2 separate regions of the Homo sapiens genome follow, and region 2 is linked to region 1. Evidence: fine-mapped expression QTL. A gene starts in region 1. The other region holds a variant in brackets. All regions are shown on one strand. Distances are from middle to middle.

Region 1 (2,900 bases):
CCCAAGCTTTCAGGAGGTCTCTGCTTAGAGGAGGACTGCAGAAAAGAAGGCTGCTGGGCCACTGTCCCAATGTTCCGAGCTACAGGTGGTCACCCATGGAGGGGGGTGGGACCTGCTCGGAAGTCCTCCAGTCTTCCCGCCCCTTCTCCCCTCCCGGCCCTCCCAGGCGGCCCCTCTCCTCGGCCTGCCCCCTCCACCCCGCAATTCTTCCCGTCTCAATTCCAGTCCCTCTCTCTTGCGTCCTCCCGGCTTCCACCCCCTCAGCCTGGCCTCCAAAAGAAAGATCGGGCAGAGCGGTAGGAAAAGGGAAGCCACCGCGGTTTCTGAAAACAAGAATTCCCGCGAGCCAGGACGGTCACGAGGCCGGGGAGGAGGCGGCGCAGCTGATCAAACGCGAATGGGGACCAGCCCTGGCGGGGGTGCGGGGGGGCCCTGGCTGTCCGCGGCAGCCGCGGGCGGGGCGGCCGCTCCGAGGAGGGACGGAAGGGCTGCGTGGCACCTCGCGCTCGAAGACCAGGGGCGCGCCCTCCGCGGGGAGAACTCGGGGCGGCGGCCAGACCCGACGCGACCCCCGGCTCGGACCCTGCAGTTAACTGCTCCCAGACGCTTTCCCAGTGCGCCCGCCCGCCGGCCCTCGGGAGGTACCGGGCAGGGGGCTAGGGCCGGGCCGACCCTGTGAGCCGCTCAGCCCCGGGCGCCCCCGCCCTCCTCGGAAGTGACTCGTCCTCAGGGAGAGTCCGGCGCCCGCCCTGCCGGCCTCGGCCCCTTTCCCGCCCCATTTGGCTCCTCCGCCGGGGGCGCCCCCAGGCTGGGCAGGCTGGCTCCCCGTCCCCCTAACCCCGCCGCCCGGGCACCCCTCGTCTGCGGGCGCGGGGTCCAAGTGTCCCCTGTCCAGGGCGGGCAGAAAGGAGAAGTCGCAATCTCGGTTGAAGTCTCTTCCCCGCCTCCTTCGTGCACTTCAAGGCTGCCTCGGCCCCGCGCCCCTCCCGCGTCCCCGGCCCCGCACCTTGCCGCAGCGGCCCCTGCGCCAGTTCGGACCGGTCCTCGGGAAAGGCGTCGCGCAGGCGCTGCCACAGGCGGCCCAGGTCCGCCAGGCTGCGGTGCAGGTAGAGCACGCTGCGGTCCGACCACTCCGTGCGGATCTCGAAGAACTCCTCTTCGTCGCCGCGCCGGCTGACGATGAGCCTGCGGATGCCGTTCACCCAGCAGCCGCGCACGAACATGTTCACGAGCGACGTGCCCTCAAACACCGCCGAGGCCATGTCGCACGCATGCCCCCGCCAAGGGCTCCCCAGCCCCGCCGCCCGCCCGCCCGCAGGAGGCGCGCCCCGGCCGGGGTCGTCCCGGGTCTGTCCGTGGCCGGGGTCGTCCGGGGTCGGCCCGTCACTCCAAGGAGGCTGCGTATGGCCCGCGTTCGGGGCAGCGGGGCGGCGCGGCGGCGAGTGGCTCGGGCCGGCCGGGCGCGGCTTTATAAGGCGCTTCCCATCGCGGGCGGCGCGGTAGTCGACGTCGAGGTTAGGCCGCGTCCGCCTCCCGCCCGCCTCCCGCGGAACGGGCGCCGCGGGCCGCTCTGGAAAGGAAGAGGTCCGGCTGGCCGCGCCCCCGCCGCCTCCGCAGAGACCGCGCTGCCGCGGCCACGAGAACCCCCGGAGCCGGGAGCCGGGCCGAGTCCCAAGCGCTCGCCCCCGCCTCGCGCCCCCCGCGCCTCCTCCCTCGCGGCCCCGGAGCCGCAGGTCGGTGACTGGACCAGCCGGGAAGGGAGGCGGGGCGGGCCCTGCTTGCCAGGCGCTCGGCGCAGACTTTTTTCTCTTTCCGTTTCGCGATCCTCGGGACCTCCCAGGGCTAGGAGCTGCGCGCCCCACCCGGCCCGCGAGGGGATGGCAACTACCCGGGGTCCGGAGGCGGGGCTGCGAGTGTCGGGGCGGGGGGCGCGGGCCGGGTCGAGCACCGCCCCGACGAGGGCCCAGGCCAGTCCGGCCCGCCCCGGGTTCCCTCCGTGCCTCAGGTCCCCTCCGTGCCCCGCGTCCTCCCGCGCATTCCGGTCATGCCTCAGCCGCGCCAAGGCCTGGGACACGGCCGGACAGACCGCGGGGCAGCCCTCGGAGAAGTGGGAAGAGGGGAGAAAACAGTGGCGAAAAGAAGGTCTCCTGGGAAGGAGCGCCCTGGGAAGCTGGACGCGGTGGGTGCTCTTGAGGGGCCTCAGGAGTGGACTTGGGGAAACCGCCCGCCCTGAAAACTGACTCAGCGGCGCGTTACTGAGGCCGTTCCTAGTTGGAAGAGAATTAATAGCACTTGTTTGAGAATTACAAGTTAGTTCCAGAAATGAATCGAGTGACCTCACAGCCCGTAGGCAGGGGTGGGAGAGCCAGGGTGAGCCCCTCACCTCACCCCGCCCCCGCCCCGGCAGCGCTCTGGAAAGCCTCAAAGCCCAGCGCTGCGCGGAAATGTTAGAGGCCCAAGGCAGGTGGCCTGTCTGGACTCAGACCCGACCCAGATGTCCCCCCAGGTCCCTACCACTCAGTCCCACCTGCCTCGACTCAGTCCCGACCCAGATGACCACCCCCCCCCCGCCCCCACCACGACCAACTTTTATTCCGACTGCGCCAGTGACTTGCAGATAGCATAGCTTCAAATTTCCTCACCTGGTCTGGGGCGGTGAACAGGTCAAGATGGAGAGTGTCAAGAGAGACTTTTGCTTTGTCTATGATGTTTTTATATACACTTGCTAATTAAATGAACGCATATGTTTCCTGTGTAATTTTGTATAGGGGAATAGGGGCCGTGGGAACTGGAAGTAAACAGCCAGTGTGCCAGCAGCTCTTGACTCTAGGTGGTGGGAATAAGTGCCGTTGTAACCACAGTACCAGCCCAAACGGGGCTTACTCTGTTTGTAACAATGT
Region 2 (2,900 bases), 130 kb after region 1:
TGTTGCAAACAGGTCACACTGCTTTGCCGAGACCAGCTCGGTCAGGGAGACCCTAATCCAGCGGCGCTAGAGGAATTAAAGACACACACACAGAAATACAGCACGTGAAGTGGGAAATCAGGGGTCTCACAGCCTTCAGAGCTGAGAGCCTTGAACAGAGATTTACCCACGTGTTTATTGACAGCAAGCCAGTGATAAACATTGTTTGTATAGATTATAGATTAACTAAAAGTATTCCTTATGGGAAACAAGGGATGGGCCGAAATAAAGGGATGGGTTCTGGCTAGTAATCTGCAGCAGGAGCATGTCCTTAAGGCACAGATCACTCATGCTATTGTTTGTGGTTTAAAAACGCCTTTAAGCGGTTTTCTGCCCTGGATGGGCCAGGTGTTCCTTGCCCCCATTCCGGTAAACCCACAACCTTCCAGCATGTGCGTCATGGCCATCACGAGCATATCACAGTGCTGCAGAGATTTTGTTTATGGCCAATTTCGGGGCCAGTTTATGGCCAGATTTTGCGGGGGGGCCTGTTCCCAACACTGCTTGATCCCATACTCTCTCCAACCTCACACATAGCATGCACTGAAAGCAAACTCACAAAGTCAGCAGCATGGTACATTTCCTTTAATTTAGGAAAGGAACTGAGTCCAGACTAAATGAGGAACCTCATGCCTCTCTGGTGTCTCAATTTCCCACCTAACTATTGGGATCTGCAAAGTCAACATTTTTAAAGAATCACATGCTCCTTGTATAGACGGAAGGAACACACCAGAAGAACCTGGACAGGTTTTAATCCTTTGAGAATTAAAGTCCCAAACTGCACCAAAAAAGATAATTCTGCAGTCTTTCTGGAAGCTTCTCTCCTCATAAATCTGTTGCCATTTAACAGGGTGATGAACATGACATTGATTCTAGGGTTTCCAATAGACACAGTGGGTCATAGGTACAATTTTGCTCCTTTCACTCCGGGAGTCTTAGGCACAGCTGTGTCCAAAAGGATTTGCTGCCCTTTATTTGGGTTTGCAAGGATGTTGTATTTCTCTGCATTGCAGATTTCCACAGCTTTGTGAGCAAGCCATAATTATTTCCAGACAAGATGCTGGCTCAGATGACTGCCTCATCCCTAATGTGGCTTCTCAGTTTCGCAAGAGGAAAACCCAGAACTTTCCTCCCTGTGCCTTCTGTGCCTCCTGGTAACGTGGCAAAGAGAAATCACAACTAGGAAAGAAGTCGTCATTTTAGGCGATGATAAAGCATTCCCAGAATAAAATAACTTGTTCAAATTCCAAACCCACATGT[A/G]TAGAAACTATAATTTTTGTTTTGTTCTGTTGTTTTTTTGAGACAGAGTCTTGCTCTGTTGCCCAGGCTGGAGTGCAATGGTGTGATCTCGGCTCACTGCAACCTCCGCCTCCCGGCTTCAAGTGATTCTCCTGCCTCAGCCTCCCGAGTAGCTGGGATCACACACACATGCCACCACGCCTGGCTAATTTTTTATATCTTTAGCAGAGACAGGGTATCACCATGTTGGCCAGGCTGGTCTCAAACTCCTGACCTCATGATCCACCCGCCTCAGCTTCCCAAAGTGCTGGAATTACAGCTGTGAGGCACCACGCCCGGCCAAAACTATAATTTTCTGTGTGGATGGCAACTTTCTTCCACAAACAGAATAAGGGGTGATTGTGCCAATGGTTTCTGCTCTTGAAATATACCTGGGTCTGGAGGCAAGTCTGCAATGATAGAACATTCAGCAGCCCATCTGTGTGTGAAAAGCCTGCCATACGGCAAAGAACGAGCAAACTGGAGAACCACACCAACCCATTTCCATTCCCCAGCCCTCTGAAAACCCACAAAGAGAAGTTCAGTTGGGCAGCTAGAGCTTGCTGGGAACTAAGGAGTCCACTGAGTGACCATAAGCACTGAAGAGCTTGCATTTGCATTGGCTTTCCTTAAAGATTTGGTTTTAAGTAGCAAAACAAATACAAATTCAAGAGACATCTTGCTTAAAAAAAAAAAGGTGGAGGGGAAGGTGGTATTTATATTGCCACGTCAATTTTTTAATGCACTTTAAGATGAAAGAAATGTCCATTAAAACAGGGAATAATAACCAGTCCCTAAAGATCCATTTGCAGCTCTTTTCACTTCCTCCAGAGTGAAAGAAATTCCAGTTTCATGATGTCACTGCCTTAGCCAGATCTTTCTGAGGATGCAGCTGCTCAGATGCACACAGGTTCTGTTTGTGCAGTTTCCTCCTGTGTTTCCCAGAGGCGAATGAGGAGGACGGGCCATGGCAACATTCAACAAGCTGGCCTCACCCAGCACATACACACCTGCCATCTCTGCAGTTCTGACCTTGGCTAGCCTCACTCCACTGTCTAGCTTTAAGCCCCATCTTCATCTTTGAGCAGTGGCTGGAAGTTACAGCTGCAGCAAATGTGCAGAATATGAAAAGAATTTAGAATAGAATTAGACCAGAAACGATGTTGTTAAATCCAGCCATGTGCTACAGAGACCTGGCAAGGTTGCAGGCATGTCTAAGTGTACAGAAGCAGGTGACATATGACCGAATGTAGGGGCCAGGACTAGGAGCTGACCTTTGCAAGACAGTGACTTAGCAAGTACAAAATCAACAAAAATCATCCTGACCTCTCTACTTCTAACTCCTGCACCCAAGCTAACATCCCTGCTCATGATGCAACCTCGGCCAGCTGGTAAGGAGGCCCCAAAAATTCACTTGAAAATTCAACTCCAAATTTATTCGGAATCTTTTTTTTTTAGTGGGAAAATGACTTGTAATCCTGAAAAGAGACAGCATTAAGTGTAGAAATGATGAAGATGAATCAAATCTATTTCTGATATCTTGGGGTTAGGAGGTAATCTGTGGATATTTGGCCTTTTCCTTA

Evidence for each region. PIP is the estimated chance that this variant, and not a neighbour inherited with it, causes the effect.
Region 2: its variant is fine-mapped to the expression of PXDC1 in tibial nerve (GTEx, PIP 0.99).

The regions. Positions count from the first base shown.
Region 1 is chr6:3,750,270-3,753,169 of GRCh38, forward strand. It overlaps PXDC1 (PX domain containing 1), which reads right to left and starts at 1,444. Exons shown (of 5, transcript NM_183373.4): 1 at 1,007-1,444. The coding sequence starts at 1,262. RefSeq lists silencers at 668-747, 1,498-1,737, 1,788-1,957.
Region 2 is chr6:3,881,946-3,884,845 of GRCh38, forward strand. No RefSeq gene overlaps it. Among named protein-coding and RNA genes, the nearest start is that of TGILR, 29 kb to the right of the region's middle. The variant A/G (reference allele first, on the strand shown) is at 1,300.